Regions from separate parts of the Homo sapiens genome. Here all the other regions are linked to region 3. The links come from fine-mapping of genetic effects on gene expression. A gene starts in region 3. Each other region holds a variant in brackets. All regions are shown on one strand. Distances are between the middles of the regions.

Region 1 (6,416 bases), 51 kb after region 3:
TTCTGTTCGCCTCAGCTTTCCCAGTGCCTCTCTAGAGGGCTTCTCTATCTCCTCTGTCTCTATAGGATTCCCACAAGCCCCTCTTCACCCCCACACTTCTCTAGAAGCGCATAGGGAGGTTCCTCACTCTACCTCCTCCTTCCAGACACACCACCTGCCCTTCCTCAGCACAGCGACACAAACCGCACCCCACTCCCCGCATCAGCCCTGACCTTTTCCCATGTTGGGAAACACACCACATCTCAGTTCAGGACTCTGCTCCTACCCCCACTCACACTCCCACTCCCACCCCCGCCCCTGCCCAGTGTGTCCTCTTCCTCCTAAGTCCCTCGTGTATCGCAAAACCCCACACAGGCTCTACCTTGTGGATCCTCGGGGCAGCAGCCCCCCAGGGCACAGGGCTTGGAATTCACTCACTGGCCAAGGACCATGCTCTCTGCAATGAGGCAGGTAAAGAAGGTGTGCTGGGTTGCATAGCATCCCCCTAAAAATTCATGTCCTCCCTGGAACCTCAGAATATGGTCTTATTTGGAAATAGGGTCGTTGCAGATGAATTAGTTAGGATGATGTCATACTGGAGTAGGGTAGGCCCTCAATACAATCACTGGTGTTCTTGAAAATAGAGGTACTGAGACAAGGAGGACGCCATGTGAGGACAGAGATTGGAGTGACATGGCCACAAGCCAAGGCACTGAGGGACACCAAGGATTGCTGGCAACACAGAAGCTGGAAGAGGAGAGGAAGGACCCTCTTCTTGAGCCTCCAAAGGGAGCATGGCCCTGCCTACACCTTGATTTCACACTTTAGGCCTCCAGAACTGTGAGACAACCCATTTCTGTTACTTTAAGCCCCTGTGTGTGGTCCTCTGTGACAGCAGCCATGGAGGCTACTGCAGAGGGGATAGAGTCCCAGGACTTGGGGGCTTGCAGTCTTGAGGGGAATCTCCTTCCAAGCCCTTGCAGGACAGGCCCTTGGGCATCAATGTGTTGCACTTACTCTGTGCCACCTTGTAATATTAATCCTTCTATGTACATGTTATGGGCCCCGTTACATAAAAAATGCAATTCTTTCTGGTGTGCTTCAGCTCCCTGCCTACACGCAGTGTTCCTCCCTGCCCTCACTGCATCCTCCAGGTGCGGGACCTGTGGTGGTTCCTGTCCTCAGCCACATCTACCCTGGTGTGAGGACCTGTAGTCACTCAGTCTGTCTCCCAGGCCTTTCTTTTATTTATTTATGGACGTCCATTGCAGAACTGAATTAATTCTACCTCAGTGCATGGATGTCGTCATCACTGGCCCATACAAGTCCTCTCTCTTGTCTTTCTCACGTGTGTATGTATGTATTCCCACTCCCACCCCCGCCCTCACATCCATTCTAATGTGTATCCACTCTTGAAAGCGGGTGGCTTGGTGTGTACGTGTTTCCTGTTGTGTAATGGCATCGTGCTATCACTCATCCTGCGTCTTCCATGATCCTGAGATCCCTTCTCAGGAGTGGCTGTGTGGACATCCATGCCTTTGCACCCGCCAACTGCACAACACCCCATGGTGTGCAGTGACCACTCTCCTGGGGGTGGCACCCCGATGGCCTCCAGCTCCCCAGCCTCACAGCCACTTGTGTCTGCATCCCACCTCTAGGCCTGGGTGAGAACCTCTTTGACATATATTCCAAGAGACAGAGTTCCTGAGTCTGGAGAGCATGCAATTCTCTCATTTGCCCACACCCTGCAAAGTGCCCTCCAGAATGGCTGTGCCATCAATAACCCCTTCCCACAACCACACATAAGGTCCCCGTTTCCCCACATCTCTGTCAACACTTGGCATCATCCAGCTTTCCCATGAAAAATTATATCTCGTTGTTGAATGCTTTGCATTTTTCTAGTAACCACTACATTTGAGCATCTTTCCATGTGCTCTTTAGCCCTTTGGGGTGCCTCTTCTGCAAGTTACCCTTGGGATTCTTTACCAGGTTTCCATGGGGACTGCTGCCTCTTTCTGACCGATTTGCAAGAGCTCCTTGTGTATTCTAGATATTAGTCCTGTCACTTTTTGAAAACAGCTTTATTGAGACACACCTTACAATTCACCCATTTAAAGTGTATAATTCAATGCATTTTAGTACATTCACAGGTACATGCAGCCATCACCTTCAATTTTAGAACTTTTTAATCACCTCAAAAAGAAACCCCATAAGCATTAGCTCTCACCCCATCCCTCCATCGCACCCCAGCCCTAAGCAACCACTAATGTGCTTCTCATCTGCTTGAGAGATTTACCTACCCCACACGTTTCATATAAATGGAATAATGTGGTCTTTTGTGACTGGCTTCTTTCATTTGCCGTAGTGGTTTTAAGGTTCATCCACATTGTGTCATGTAACAGTGATTCCTTCCTTTTTATGACTGAATGATGTTCCATTGAGTGGATAGACCACATTTTGTTGACTCATTTATCAATGCAGAGACATATGAGTCGTCTCCACTGTTTGGCTATTGTGAATAACACTGCAGTAAACACTCTGGTACAGGTTTCCCCATGGACATAGGCTTTCCTTTCTCTTGAGCATATACCCAGGAGTGGGATTGCTGGGTTATATGATAACAACGTTAAGTCATTTGAGGAACAGCCAGACAGTTTTCCGAAGTGGCTGCGTCATCTCACCATGAACTGCCTGTGAGGCTTCCAGTTTCTCTGCCTCCTGGCCCCACCTGTTATTACCTTGCTTTTGAATTCTAGCCATCCTAGTGGATATAAAGTGGTATCTCCTGGTGGTTTTGATTTGCATCCCCTGATGACTAATGACATTGAACAGCTTTCCATGTGCATATTGGCCATTTGTGTATCTTCGTGAGGGGAATATCTATTCAGATCTTTGGCTCATTTTTAATTGGATTATTTGCCTCTTATTATGGAATTGGAAGAGTTCTTCTTACATTCTAGATATAATTTTCTTATCAGATATATAATCTGTGAATATTTTCTCCCATTCTATGCTTTGTCTTTTCATTTTCCTGTGGGTGTCCTTTGAAGCATAAAAGTCTTTTAATACTGATGATGTCAATTTATCTATTTTTTTTTCTTTGGTTATTTGTGCTTTGAGGTCACATCCAAGAATTAGATGTAAAGTCAAGCAGATTTACTCCTATGTTTTCTTTTTAAGAGTTTTACAGTTTTAGCTCTTACATGTATGTCTTTGGTCCCTTTCGAGTCCGTTTCCGTGTGTGAAAGGGTCTAACTCCATCATGTGCATGTGGCCCCTTTCCCTTTAAATCTTTGCAAGTCTCTTTTCTCGATCCATCCTCACTCCATTAACTTTGTCGCAGTTTCCTTTGTGGAATGGAAACAGATTGTAGTCCTCAAAATCAGGTTGTTCCTGAAACTCTCTTCTAATCCAAATCCCCCCAATTCTCTGCGGAGTTGGTGAGCCCATAACTGAGAATACATAACTCACAGTCCTCTTGAACACTGAGGGTGAAAGAC[G/A]TTAGCATTCATTGTCTTTGTATCAATCATCATTTTAACATGGAAGGCAAATCCCCTTCCTCAGAAACACCAAAGACCTTCTGGAATTGCAAGCAAGCTTCAAGTTGACTAAGTGTGTTCACCTTCCTTCATCTAGCTGCCAGTGCACACTGAAATGGCTTGCATTGCGGGCAGCAGGAAGGATGATGATGAGAAATACAAAACCCCTATAACCACAAAGCGGTGTGCAATCCCTGAGCAACCAAACCTTGGTAATGGGGGATGATGACCCCTTGGCACTCCTGAGCCACGAACTTTTCCTGACTCTATTCTTTCCTTTCCAACTAGGAGTTACCCCGGTCACCACGTTCGCCCTTCTCAACCTGACTAAGTGGGCGTTAGCACTGTCCGCCCACTGCATGGGCACTACCTGCCCCAGTGTCCTCTCCCCTCTCCGCTCTGTGCCATAGCCTTAGCTACCCTGGCCAGCTTTCTCCCAGCCAAGTCCTTCCTCCTTTCTGAATCTGGTCAGGGTCTCAAAGATCGTTAAAAAGCCGCCAAAGTTTGCAACTCGTCTTGAGTGGCTGCTCCTCCCAAACGGTTCTGCCTCTGGTGTCTTGTTCTAGGAGCGGTTGAATTCTCTGTTTTGCTGTGGGTGCCAGCCTCTATCAGCCCCTGCCCTGGTCCATCTGTCAGCTTCAGGTAAGACTACCGGCTAGGAAATGGCCCCTTGTCCTTATCTCTGCCTCTAAAATATGCCACCTAAATTAACAGATCGTGGCATTGCATGGCTCGTCACAGAGAAGCCAAGGCAAATTCTTGTGGAAGGCGGCACTTGTCTGGAAACAGACTCAGGACAAGTGTGCTGCACAGCCAGCTTCCTCAAACCCACTCTCGCCACTGTAGCTGCCCACAGAGGCACCTCCCAAGCCATAGGCCCCTCCTAGGCCAGCTCAGGCCTCACCTTGTCCCTCCCTGCAGGGCGGGGTCTGATTGACTTCAAGAAGGAGTCAGAGATCAGCTTAAGGGCAAAGGCTGGAAGCAGAGCGAACTGGGAGCAGAGCACACAGGTGCGTTCTGATGGGTATTCGGGAGAGTCAAGAAGGGGCTGACCTGGAGGACAGAAAAGCAGTGGAAGGAGGGCACAGAGTGAGGGGCAGAAGAAACAGGACACAGAGGGAGGAGGGCCAGGAAGTGAGGGCGGGAGCCCAGCACATCACAGAAGGTGCCCGGGTGCTTGGTGGCAGGCAACAGCCGGCCAGGGTGGAGTGGGGAAAGCTCAGAGAGGAGGGTGAGCAGGGAGAGGGCTTGCTTCCTGTTCCTGCCTGGAGGTCTCACCAGCCACCACCCCCACTGCCACTGCACATGGGGACAGAGGTTTGTCCTGGGGAAAGCAAAGGTCTCTTCCACATCTTTCTCCTTCCTGGAAAAGCAAAAAGAAACGTGGGTATAAGAGGTTGTAAAAAAGGAGACCCAGCCGTGAAAGGACATGGAGGTACCCTAAATGCACACTGCCAAGCAAAAGAAGCCAATCTGAAAAGGCTGCAGACTGTAAGATTCCAAATACAGGACGTTCTGGAAAAGGCAAAACTATGGAGACAATAAAAAGAGCAGTGATTGCTAGGGTTTCGGAGGAAGAGGTGGAGCACAGAAGATTTTGGGGGAGGTGGAACTATTCTGTGTGATATTCTAATGGTGGATCCATGTCATTGTCCGTTTGTCCAACCCATAGAATATGCAGCAGCAAGAGTGAGTCCTGATGTAAACTGTGGGCTCTGGGTGAGAGTGATGTGCAGGTTCATCAGCCACAAATGTATGGCTCTGGTGTGGATATTGATAGTGGGGAGGCTGCGTGTGTAGGGGCTGTGAGTATACAGAAACTCTCAGTACCTTTCGCTCAATTTTGCTATGAACCTAAAATTCCTCTTTAAAAGACTCCTATTTAAAAGACTTTAATAGACTTTATAAAGTTTGTTAAAAGACTTTTAATAGACTTTTTAAAGACTTTTAACAGACTTTATAAAGTCTATTAAGAAATCTATTAAAGTCTATTTTTAAAAGTCTATTAAAAAAAAAGTCTACTATAATCCCAGCACTTTGGGAGGCCAACGCAGGAGGATCACTTGAGCCCAGGAGTTCAAGACCAGCCTGGGCAACATAGTGAGATCCTGACTATATATATATATATATATATATATATATATATATATTTATTTATTTATTTATTTAAGTCTAATAAGAAGTCTATTTGGGGCCAGGCCTGGTGGCTCATGCCTGTAATCCCAGCACTTTGGGAGGCTGAGGCAGGTGGACCACTTGAGGTCAGGAATTCAAGACCAGCCTGACCAACACGGTGAAACACCATCTCTACTAAAAACAAAAAATTAGCCGGGCATGGTGGTGCACACCTGTAATCCCAACTATTCCAGAGGCTGAGGCAGGAGAATTGCTTGAACCTGGGAGGCAGAGGTAGCAGTGAGCCAAGATCGCATCACTGCACTCCAGCCTGGGCTACAGAGCAAGACTGTCTCAGGAAAAAGAAAAAATAGTCTATTTAAAGAAGAAAAAAAAGAGGCCTGGCCAATATTTAATAGGAGAACACAAGAACTCACCTCATATCCTTCCTGCTGGCTCTGGGTTCCGCCTGCAGCCCCTGCCTCACCTGCTCCCTCCAGGTAAGCAGGGCCTCCGAGAGCCCAAGATCATGTGGGTTCCAGGGTCTTCTGCCAGCACCAGAGGGCAAGACAAGGCAACTAGAGGGACATCCCCATGAGAGGCCATGACCATGGAGCAAAACGAGGGCAAGGGGAGAGCCCTCGGGGAGAGGGGCATGGGAAAGGGAGAGAAGGACATCTCAGATCAGCCTTTACCGTGGCCTCCAGGGCTAGAGAGCCCTCGGGTGATGGAACAGGCCCAGCCAACACCTTTCATTTGTCTATGAATCAAGAACTGCCCATC
Region 2 (5,587 bases), 33 kb after region 3:
AGAATGTATATTCTGTAGTTGTTGGATAGAATGTTCTGCAAATTGTTAGGTCCCTTTGTCTATAGTGCAGTTTAAATCTAATGTCTCTTTGTTGACTTTCTGCCTAGATGATATATGTCCAATGCTGAGAGTGGGGGTCAATCTTTGTGCTTCCCAACCTGCTGCTGAGGTTGCTCCTTTGGCCTGTAATAACCTCACCACTAGCATCTGTTCCCCTCACAAAGAATCAGTCACCCTTGTCAGCCTCATTATACCCAGTACAAAGGCCACCTGCTCTGGGAAACATTTCCCAAACCACTGCCCCACCCTGGGTGACTGGACCACTCCCTCCTCCATGCCCTGTACATACCTCGCTCTCTGCACCTGGCCCTTTTATGACCCTTACTTGTTTACTTGACCCTTACTTGAGGACATCTGACTCTACTCACTCTAGTTCATGCCCCCCAGGGCACAGCCAGGGCATTTCATATCTGTGTCTGCACAGCAAGGGCAGTATAGTGTGGTAGGGCTGTGCAGCTCTGAAAGCACTGCCAGGGTGGGTTGAGATCTTGGTTCTCATTTCTTTTTTTTTTTTTTTTCTTTTTGAGATGGATTCTCACTCTGTTGCCCAGGATGGAGTGCAGTGGCACAGTCTCGGCTCACTGCAGGCTCCACCCCCGGGTTCACGCCATTCTCCTGCCTCAGCCTCCCGAGTAGCTGGGACTACAGGCGCCCGCCACCATGCTCGGCTAGTTTTTTTGTGTTTTTAGTAGAGACAGGGTTTCACCATATTAGCCAGGATGGTCTTGATCTCCTGACCTCCTGATCTGCCTGCCTCGGCCTCCCAAAGTGCTGGGATTACAGGCGTGAGCCACCGCGCCCAGCCGGTTCTCACTTCTTCATATGTAATCTGATGACCCTCACAGGGTCATTGTGAGGAGTGAATAAAATATACACGTGAAGCACTTAGCACAGTGCCGGGCACAGAATCTGCATCTGATTCAACTGGGGCATAAATGGATGAAGGAACTTGTTAAATAATGACACAATGGCCGCCTTGGATTCTTTGCATTCTCGTTGGAGTGAGAAATCTCCTTTTTCTGAAAACTGACCTGAATGTGGAGGACAGACAAGTAGTGACTCTTGGCTCTGCAATCCATGAGAAGAGCTGCTGGCTTATATCCATAACTTATTTTGAGTTTTATTCAAGGACACAGAAGTCCACTTCTTCTTGGAGGAAGGACAGAATTTAGTCCAATGTCTGAGAAGCTTTAATAGGCTGCCAGGGAAAAGAATTATGAGCTGCCTCTTTCTCTGGGACATATGTGCCATTGTTTTCCTCTCAGCACAAAGACTTTGCTGTGCCCTGGGGTAGGGGCTTTGCTTCACTGTGAAACTGGCTCCAACATAGACCTTGAGATTGCTAAATGTTCTCATTCTGAGCTAATCTGGAGCCTAAAGAGGTTAACAATCCAGCAACAACGAAGAAGAATATTTTGATGGAATTTCTCCTTGTCTTTGCCATATATTATATGCCTTTTTTCAGAGTACACTATTCATCAAGAACTTGAGCTTCTCGAACACTATATTTTGGTTATAGACTTTTTTATTGCTTTTTTATGATTATAAAAATAAATACATGCCCATTGGAGAAAGCTGGGAAAAATGGAAAAGTATAACAAAAAGACAAAAATTACCCATAATTTCACACCCCAGAGATAACCACTGTTAATATTTTTGTGTGATCTTTTCACTAGTGATAGATAGATAAACAAATAAGTAGACTGACATACAAATGCATTAGGCACATTTTTCCCACAAGTGGAAAAACACCAATAATTAGATTTCTTGGTCCAACAAGCCTAGTTGTTTGTTTGTTTGTTTTGTTTTGTTTTTGAAATGGAGTCTCGCTCTGTCACCCAGGCCGGAGTGCAGTGGCTCAATCTTGGCTCACTGCCACATCATCCTCCCGGGTTCAAGTAATTCTCCTGCCTCAGCCTCCTGAGTAGCTGGATTACAGGCACGCACCACCACGCCCGGCTAATTTTTGTATTTTTAGTAGAGACAGGGTTTCATCATGTTAGCAGTCTGGTCTGGAACTCCTGACCTCGTGATCCGCCTGCCTCAGTCTCCCAAAGTGCTAGGATTACAGGCATGAGCCACCACGCCCAGCCACAGGACTAGTTTTTTACAGGCTTCAATGTGACCAAGGTGGACTGAAGGAAAAGCTATATTGAAGAAAACTCCTGAACCTGCCAACTGGGAAGGTCCCAAGAGTCCAGACTGGGTGGTCATGTAGACCCTCATCCTTCACCTGCTCATCCTGCCTAGTTAAGTGTTTGCTTAGCTCAACTCTCAGAGGCAGCAAAGGCAGCAAATGAGATGGTGAATTACAACCCAAAGCCCAGGCACTGGACTGGGCAGTGTGGTAGGGAGGTGCAGAGATTCAAGTGAAGACCTACCTGCTCCCCCTTCCCCTTCCTCCTAGATCCCTGTCAGGTCCTTTCACCTGAGCCTTGATTCCATGTGACTATGATAGTTGGTTGTTTGGTTGGTGCCCATATTTGTTTGCTAGAGCTGCCATAGCAAAGTACCACAACTGGGAGGCTGAAACGCACACATTTATTTATCACAGTTCTGGACGCTGGAAGCCTGAGCCCAAGGCATCTGCAAGGTTGGTTCCCTCTGAGACCTCTCCTAGGCTCACGGATGTCTGTGTTCTGCCTGTGTTCTCCTCATCACATGGTCATCCCTCTGTGTGTGTTTGTGTTCCAATTACCTCTTCTCATAAAGACACCAGACATATTGGATTAAGACTCATCTAATGACCTCATCTTAACTTAATTACTTCTTTATAGACCCTATTTCCAAATATAGTCACATTCTGAGGTACTAGGGGTACGACTTCAACATATG[C/A]ATTTTGGGGGACACAGTTCAGCCCATGACAGCGCCTCACTAGGTGCTGGTGATACTTGATCCTGACCAGGCTGCTCCATCAACAAGAGTAATGAGTGGAAATTTCAGCTCCTTAGAACCAAGTATTTTTAAAATGAAAAAAAAATTGAACTTAATGAGAATTTGCTGTTTAACTTTTAAAAGTAAGGCATATCACAACACCAATGACATTCTTCGCAGAAATAACAAAAGTATTCCTGGAATTTGTATGGAAACACACACAAAAAAGAAACCCAAAAAGCTGAAATAAGCAAAAAGAACAAAGCTAGAGGCATCAAACTTCCTGACCTCAAAGTATAATACAAAGCAATAGTAACTAAAACAGCGTGGTACTGGCATAAAAACAGATGCATAAACCAATGGAACAGGATAGAGAGCCCAGAAATAAATCTACACCTTCATAGCCACCTGATTTTCAACAGCAGTGCGAAGATAGCACAGTGGAAAAAGGACAATTGCTTCAATAGAATGGTGTTAGAAAAACTGGATATCCACAAACAGAAAAATGAAATTACCCCCTTATATCTCACCATGTTCAACTCAAAATAGATTAAAGACTTAAATCCAAGACCCAAAACTATTAAACTACTAGAAGAAGACATAGGGGGAAAACTCCACGACACTGGTCTGGGCAATAATTTTTTTATAAAACGTTAAAAGCATGGATAACAAAAGCAAAAAGAGCCAAATGAAATTACATCAAATTTCTAAAAATTTACTAAAAAGCTTCTGCACAACAAAGGAAACAACCAACAGAGCAAAAAAGACAACCTAAATAGTGGGAGAAAATATTTGCAAACTATACATCTGACAAGCAGTTAATATCCAAAATATATAAGGAAACCAAACAACTCAATAGCAAAATAATAATAATAATAATAATAATAATAATAATAACCCAGTGAAAAATTGGCAAAAGACTTGAGTAGACATTTTGCAAAAGAAGACAGACAAATGGCCAACAGGTGTATGAAGAAAAGCTCAACATCACTAATCATCAGGAAAATGCAAATAAAAAACCACAAGGAGATATCACCTCATTATTATGGCTATTATCAAAAAGACAAAAGATAACACTTGCCATCAAAGCTGTGGAGAAAAGGGAACATTTATATATTGTTGCTGGGAATGCAAATTAGTACAGCCATTATGGAAAACAGTATAGAGGTTCCTCAAAAAATTAAAAACAGAACTACAATATGATCCAGCAACCCCACTACTGGGTATATATTCAAAGGAATTGAAATCAGTATGTTGAAGAGATATCTGCACTCCCATGTTTATTACAGCACTATGCACAATAACCAAAATATGGTATCAACCTAAATGTCCATCAAAGGACAAATGGATTTAAAAAAATGAGTTGTATATATACACATGGAATACCACTTATCCATAAAAAAGAATGAAATCTGCCATTTGTGATAACAGGATGAACTTGGAGGACATTCTGTAAGTGAAATAAGCCAGGCACAGAAAGATAAATACCGCATGATCTCACTCATCAAGATTCATGTGGAATCTAAAAAAACCTGAACTCAAAGAAGTAGAAGCTAGGCTGGTTAGAAAGGAGTGGGGAGATGGGGAGATGTTGGTCAAAGGATACATAATTACAGCTAGTTAGGAGGAATAAATTTCAAGAGATCTGTTGTATAGCAAGGTGATTATAGTTAATGACAATATATTCTCTTCTTGAAAAATGTAGAAAATGGACATTAAGTGCTCTTACCACAAGAGCGATAACTTATATGAAGTAATGCATTTGTTAATTAGCTAAATTTAACCACTCTACAATGTATATGTATATCAAAACATCATGTTTCACCCAAGAAAAACATACAAGTTATGTCAAGTAAAAAAAAAAAAAAGATGAAAAAAAAAAAAGCAAAGCAGATTTCTCTGAGCACCATCAGTGCCTGCATTGAGTTCTTTTTTATCAATGGAGCTGCTCCATGAATGGCTCTGAGTCTTGCCTGCACCTCGGAATCAACTGGGGAGCTTTTAACCCCACCCCCTACAAACCCAGGCCCCCCTATCTAAATCAGAATCCGGAGGTGGGACCTCTGGGCACCAATAGTTAGGAACACTGCCTGGGTGATTCCAACATGCAGCCAGCGGGGAGAACACCCCACAATGGCTCTGGTCCAGGGCATGGGTCTTTGGGGGCTTTGCAGGGGCTCCACGGGGCCTCCACTGAGGTTCCTTAGGATCTGCATGACTCCCTTCAGTCAGCACCTCCCAGGCAGTGAAATCCGGAGAAGGGCTTCCAGGCTGTGGCTGCCTCCCTTAGAAAACAAAACCTTTATAGAACAGGGACACAGTGAAGGACTCAGGACAAAGCAGGCAGTTGGATGCTTGTGAGACCCAGGAATGTTGTGGAGTTCACGCCTCTGGGCATCCTGTGCCCACATCAGTCACAGACAGGAAAAACCAGGAGAAGCAGCATCATGGCCCATTCCCAGAGCAACAGAAAAGCCCAGGGATCAGTGAAACTCAGGGAGACATTGGTGGCACAGGAACCTAAGTGGGATGAGCTGACCTAATAACCCAGAGGCACAGCCTAGCCAAGACCCTGCTTCTGTGGAAAGTTTTGGAGCCCCGTGGCAGAGGCCTTTCTACCCTGAGTGCTCACAAATCTCCTAAGCCAACACCA
Region 3 (6,416 bases):
GATCATCCTTGGCTACAAGGATCAATAACAAGGGTGACACAAGTCCAGGGTTAGACAGGCAGTTGCTGGTGGATGTCCTCACAGAAGTATTTTTTTGTGTAAGGTTGTCATTTTACAGAGTCCTTTGTGATGACTTTTGTTCCCAGGTTATTTACGCATGAGAACCCTGCCTTGTGGGCCTTCCATTTTCAGATTTTTTTTTTAACTCAAGTGACTCGATTATGATTCTGACAACTTTCACAAAAGCTTCTTCACTCATTTGTGTAACTGCATATATTTTGAGAGTATGAATTCCTCATAATTTATTTAAGTGGTTCCCTATTGGCAGACATTTAGGTTATTTCTAATCCTTTTCCATTACAGACAATGTGGAATTGGCAGGGCACCAGGAATGCGCATTTGCAATTTTAGTAGATATTGTCAGTTATCCTCCACGGAGGTGGTAGCAATTCACATGCAGGAGGCAAACTCTTTTATCTTTTTCCTTTTATATGGGGAAAAATGCATTGATTTTAATCAATTTTATGTAATAAAAATGTCCCATTTTAAATGTATATCTCAACGAGTTTTGACAAATTTACACATTTGTGCAATTACAGCTACAATCAAGATAAAGGACATTCCTACACAGCAATACATTCCCTAAAGCCCCTCCCCAGAAAATACCCCCAACCACTGGCCATGAGCAACCACTGACCTGCTTTCTGTAATGATTTCCATATATTTTTAATCCATGGTTTTCTTTTATTTCATTTTTTTATTATGTATTTATTTATTTATTCATTTTTTGAGATGGAGTCTCGCTCTGTCGCCCAGGCTAGGGTGGCGCGATCTCGGCTCACTGCCAGCTCCACCTCCCGGGTTCACGCCATTCTCCTGCCTCAGCCTCCCGAGTAACTACAGGCGCCCGCCATCAAGCCCAGCTAATTTTTTGTATTTTTAGTAGAGACGGGGTTTCACCGTGTTAGCCAGGATGGTCTCGATCTCCTGACCTCATGATCCGCCCGCCTCGGCCTCCCAAAGTGCTGAGATTACAGGCGTGAGCCACCGCGCCCGGCCAGTTCTCTTTTTTTAGAGAGAGAGATGGGGTGTTGCTTTGTTGCCCAGGGTGGTCTCAAACTCCTGGACTCAAGCAATCCTCCCACCTCAGCCTCCCAAAGTGCTGCAATTACAGGTGTGAGCCACCACGCCTGGCCCATAGTTCTCTTATTATGAGTGAGGTTGGTTGTCTTTTCATATGTTCAGGGCCATTTTTATTTCTTCTTTTGTGAGCTCTCCGTTCACATCCTATGTCCTTGTTTCGTTTTGTTTTGTTTTGCTTTTTTCTATGGAAGTTCTTTATCTATTCACAAAATTACCGTTTGTGATATGAGTTTCAAATGTTTCTTTACAATTTGAAGTTTATTTTTTGACCTTGCTTGTATATTCATACAATCCATGTTCTATTTCATTCTATTTATGGTGTCTAGCTCTTACACTTTTAAAGGACTTCCCCGTTTCGAGATTATAAAATAATCTTCCACATTTTCTTCTAAGTGCCTTTATGCTTTCAGTTTTCACTTTTAAATGCCGACCATCTGGAATTTGGGAGCTGGGTGACCAACCTTCGCCGTTGGGAGACACGGATCCAAGTTCTGTTGCTGTCATTCAGATGTTTAACTTCTGAAAGATACGTTCCATTTGCGGAAAATACATCCTCTTTTTCTCAGTGATTTAAAATTCTCTCCTGAGCAGAAATGAAGTTCCCCTAGGAATGTAGGCCTATTCTAGTCCTTATATTCTGCCCATTGGCATGTCTCATGGGCTAGGCATCATTACCACAATTTTAACATGGAGCTTAATGCTAATTGGGCTGTTTCATGATCCCCTCGTGTGGTTTTTCTTTCAGAATTGTCATGGCCATTTTTGCTAGACTACTTCTTCACATGCACTTTAGAATCAGCTTGCCTGGCTCTAAAATAAATCCTGCATAGGCAATTCTAATGGACATCCTGGCTAAGTATCACAGTTTAAATCAAATATTATTAACAATTCTAATAACACCTCCCATTCGTACTCTACCTACTTTTCAAAGCAGTTTCACTCTTTCACCCACCTGGCCTCCTTGGGGTTAGAAAGGACAGGAGTTAGACAATTCCGCACACGTACAAAGGAGCTTCAGACTGCTTCCAGCCCAGCCCCAGATTCCAGCCAGACCTTCCCTTGACGGCCCAGGCCTCGCCCTGAGGGCACCTCGGGTTCCAGCTACCTCCGGGCCCCCAGGACCACCGCTTCCCCCGCCCCACGCCAACCCCTAGATCTGCCTCGCCCCCGCCTGAAGAGTCGGATCTGAACCAGGCCGGCACCACGGAGATTCCCCTGCGGGCCGCCCGACGCCTGGTAGGTGGTGGGCTCTTCCCGGCTGCCCCGAACACTTTCCTCTGTCCAGCTCTTCCCGTGCCCCGGGGCTGGGGAAAGCGTCCGGCAGCCCCGCCGCTCCCTGGCCCCGTCCCAGGAGCCACCCCACCGTAGGGCTCCAGCCAGGGTCCAGGCGTGCAGGCGGCAGAAGGTGGACGGGACGCGCCAGCCCCAGGCCTCTCCTCCCGCTCTCCAGCCGTTTTTCTGGGGAGAAACACCTGCACCCAGCTGTCCCTCCCTCCTACGTGAGTCCTCCTGGAAACCAGGTTGGAGGAAGAAAGACGTCCTGTGGACAGGACGGGGTGGGGGCATGGCCCTGGGGACTCCTCGTGACAGAGGGTCCTGCGGCAAGAGGGTCTCCCGGGCCGCGGAGGCCCTGCCTCACCTGCAGTCCTCCGGGAGCCCGCGGCCGAGCAGAGCGGACACTAGCTGACCCCGAGCAGGGGAGCGACGGGAGGGCGGAGACGGCAGATGCACGGGTGGGGGCTGCGGCCCCGCCCAGGCTGCGCGGTTTCCCGAAACCAGCTGCGGCCCGGGGGCCCGGCAAAGGGGGTTCCGCCCGGAGGAGCGGACCGGGCGGGAGAAGACCGAGCCCCCGCGCGCCCCCTGCGCTCCCACTCGCGCACACTTGCACGCCGGCCCTGGCCGGGCGGGGCTGGAGGCGAGAACGACCCCACGGGCTTTCCCAGGGCCGTCCGCCCGCGGACCCTCCCAGCTCCCCAGAGCCCAGTGACCCTCGCGCAGCAGGAGAACCCCAGACGGACCCCAGGCCCTGCAGCCTGTCATGAACCCGAGGGGCTGAAGTTCAGCCCCACCCCCGCCTCCCCTCCCCGCCTCCCCCTCCAACTCTCAACCCACTTCTCCAGCCAGCGCCCCAGCCCTCCCGCCGCCCGCTCGCAGGTCCCGAGGAGCGCAGGTGAGGCGGCACCCCACTCCCGGCGGCCCCCGGGCCTCCTTCCGCACGCACCCCGAGCTGCCTCCGCACAGTTGGAGGAGCGTAGGAGGGACCCCCACCCAGGGATGACACTCCAGGAAGGGGACTGCAGAGGAAGCCAGGTGCGGCCCCGGCTTTTGACCTACCTCCGCACCGCAGCGCGGTCCTTCACGGGGCAGGGGCGGCGTGAACCCGTCGGGCGTGAGCAGCAGTCGGTGGAGCGGGAGGTCGGCGGTGGCGGGGATGGGGGTATCCGGAGCGCAGCCGGGGCGCAGCTGCTGGCACAGGAGCTCCACAGGCAGCCAAGGACTCGGTCCTGTCCCAGAGCCTGCGGACTGTGGAGGGGAGGCCGCAGGAAGAGCCCGGGAGGAGGGGGTGAGGGGTCGAGGTGTGGGGCGCTGCTTGACCCAGACGCCAGGGCCCTGGGAGGAGGATGAGGGGGACAGAGCAGATCTTGGGCGAAAGGGGAGGTTCCCGCAGGCTCTGTAGTCGCCGCAGTTCCAGCATGGTCAGCACCCCCTCTGCTACACACATTCCCCTCGTGAGGGGCCAGGGGTGCGGCCCTGTGACCAGGACAGCCATTCATTGGGTGACTTTGAGCCACCACTGGCCCCTGACCTCCCCAACTCCAATGAAATCTGCGAAAATCTTCTGACAGCCGTTCCTCTCTGGTGCTCCCTTCCTCATAGACTGTGTCCCTGACAATGGGAACAGCCGACAGTGATGAGATGGCCCCGGAGGCCCCACAGCACACCCACATCGATGTGCACATCCACCAGGAGTCTGCCCTGGCCAAGCTCCTGCTCACCTGCTGCTCTGCGCTGCGGCCCCGGGCCACCCAGGCCAGGGGCAGCAGCCGGCTGCTGGTGGCCTCGTGGGTGAGTGTGACGGCCTGCCTCGTCGGGCGGCGGGAGGAACTCCCCACCTCCAGCCGCAGCAGCACTCTCTGCCAGCCTCCCTCTGAACAGGACACCGAGCCAGTTATGTCTTCTTACTTAGCGATGTGATTCTCTGGCCTTCTCAGTAAGAGCCTGGGGAGGGGAGGCTCTGGGCTGAAGGGGTGTGGAGGAGCCACTGACCATGCAGAGTCCCAATCAGTGGAGCCCTGAGTCCATCCTTTCCTCTGGGCCAAACTCAGGATGGGCCGGCTCTCCTCTCCTTCCTTTCCCTTCTCTTTTCTCCTCCTCCTGCCTCTTCTTCTTTCTCCTTCTCCTCCTCTTTCTTCTCCTTTTCTCTTCTCTTCTCTTCTCTTCTCTTCTTTCTTTCTCTCTCTCTCTACCTCTCCCTCTCTTTTTGGGGTTTTAGCGGTTAATCCCTGCAGTGGCAGGTCCACCTAGGAGCCGGGATCTTGGGTCCTTTGTCTTTCAGGTGATGCAGATCGTGCTGGGGATCTTGAGTGCAGTCCTAGGAGGATTTTTCTACATCCGCGACTACACCCTCCTCGTCACCTCGGGAGCTGCCATCTGGACAGGGGCTGTGGTGAGTAGAGCAGGACAGTGCTTGACTGCCTGTGAGAGGGGTGGGGCATTGCTCTCCTGATTGCCTTCCTCCAACATGGCGCCACAGAATGCTGGCAGTCGGAGAGATCTGATTATCTAGGACCATTCCCTGCCTGTTCAGATGAGCAAACAGCTGAGGGCGGTGGTGGCATGTCCTATTCACACTGTCTGCTCTCCCATACCCTTCCCAGTGCTGTTCCCACCAGGCTGGCTGCCTCTCCCTGCCTTCAACAGTTAATGTCAACTAAGGATCTAAGGACCTGCTCATCTCCAGATACTTGCATTGAGATGGGGAAGGCAGAGCGTTCCAGATAGTATGTGGTCCCCCAGGAAGCATCACCCCCTGGTTATTCTCATTGTCCTCCACAGGCCCTGTACACAATGGAAACCCAGGAATTGTTGTCAACAGATGGGTGTGTGCAGTTTGCACAGGAGCTGGGTAGGCTGGTCATGGTACCTACACTCTCAGAATAGCACTAAAACACTCATATTTACTGACAGAAGCCGAGAGTAATTACCTTCACCCAGCCTGTGGCAAAATACCCAGCTTAATTACAGAATTAGCCAAACAGGATTCAGGTCCACCTGTCCACTGGGACATACTAGATTTCCTGTTCTTCAAGCCCAGCTGAGTGGATTATTGGGCACTGTTAGGACAGGCTTCTAGACCTAACAGTGCCCACTCTGTATAGACTCACCCTTCATTGAGATCTTCTCCAGCACCCCATGACTTTTATCCACAGGATCCCACCATCCCTAGAACTTTCATAAAGCACTTGGTGTTGTTTAAAAAGGAAGGTTTAGAAGGGAAGAGGGGCTCACACCTGGCTTGACCACAAGCTCTTAGGTGTCACTAAAGCAGGGCCTTTTGCAGCCTCAGGAGTTGGATCCAGGCTCCACCCTCTCAGCAATTATCTTACCATGGATAATAAAGCTTAGCATGAAACCTCCCGCCCAAGCTGTGTGCTGGGGAAGGGCCTGCATGGAGGCTCTCTCGTGGGAGAGGAGTTGCATTTCCTGTACTAAGCCTGCTCCTGGCTCAATCTCTCCCCAGGCTGTGCTGGCTGGAGCTGCTGCCTTCATTTACGAGAAACGGGGTGGTACATACTGGGTAAGTTCAGGGAAGGGCATGGGAGGGGACCAGGTTCAGGCTGGAGGTCACCCCAATCTCCTGCCCTGTTGCAGGCTTCTCTGGGCCTTGCCCTTTTTTCCCCCGACTGGACTCTGAGAGAGACTGAAACACAAAGATTTCTCTCTGCCTCCTCCCTCCCCAGGCCCTGCTGAGGACTCTGCTAACGCTGGCAGCTTTCTCCACAGCCATCGCTGCCCTCAAACTTTGGAATGAAGATTTCCGATATGGCTACTCTTATTACAACAGTGCCTGCCGCATCTCCAGCTCGAGTGACTGGAACACTCCAGCCCCCACTCAGAGTCCAGAAGAAGTCAGAAGGCTACACCTATGTACCTCCTTCATGGACATGCTGAAGGTAGGTGGCCAAGGGGAAGGGGCAGCAGCAGGTGGGGCAGGGATGGCCAGGCCAGGCCAGGGGCAAGAGTCAGGTTCTCCACCAGAAATAGGTGTTACC

The links. PIP is the estimated chance that this variant, and not a neighbour inherited with it, causes the effect.
Region 1: its variant is fine-mapped to the expression of TMEM176A in atrial appendage (GTEx, PIP above 0.99).
Region 2: its variant is fine-mapped to the expression of TMEM176A in left ventricle (GTEx, PIP above 0.99).

Annotation. Positions count from the first base shown.
Region 1 is chr7:150,848,031-150,854,446 of GRCh38, forward strand. AOC1 (amine oxidase copper containing 1) reads left to right here and starts at 4,487. Exons shown (of 5, transcript NM_001091.4): 1 at 4,487-4,528. The region is part of intron 1 of LOC105375567 (a long non-coding RNA gene); the gene reads right to left. RefSeq lists an enhancer at 4,069-4,640. The variant G/A (reference allele first, on the strand shown) is at 3,480.
Region 2 is chr7:150,830,798-150,836,384 of GRCh38, forward strand. The region is part of intron 2 of LOC105375567 (a long non-coding RNA gene); the gene reads right to left. It overlaps LOC124901775 (a long non-coding RNA gene), which reads left to right. Exons shown (of 3, transcript XR_007060591.1): 3 at 2,174-2,304. Among named protein-coding and RNA genes, the nearest start is that of AOC1, 19 kb to the right of the region's middle. The variant C/A (reference allele first, on the strand shown) is at 2,896.
Region 3 is chr7:150,797,516-150,803,931 of GRCh38, forward strand. It overlaps TMEM176A (transmembrane protein 176A), which reads left to right and starts at 3,254. Exons shown (of 7, transcript NM_018487.3): 1 at 3,254-3,313; 2 at 4,021-4,209; 3 at 4,700-4,810; 4 at 5,885-5,941; 5 at 6,105-6,317. The coding sequence starts at 4,036. It overlaps TMEM176B (transmembrane protein 176B), which reads right to left and starts at 2,849. Exons shown (of 7, transcript NM_001101312.2): 1 at 2,783-2,849. RefSeq lists enhancers at 1,846-2,545, 2,546-3,245, 3,246-3,945.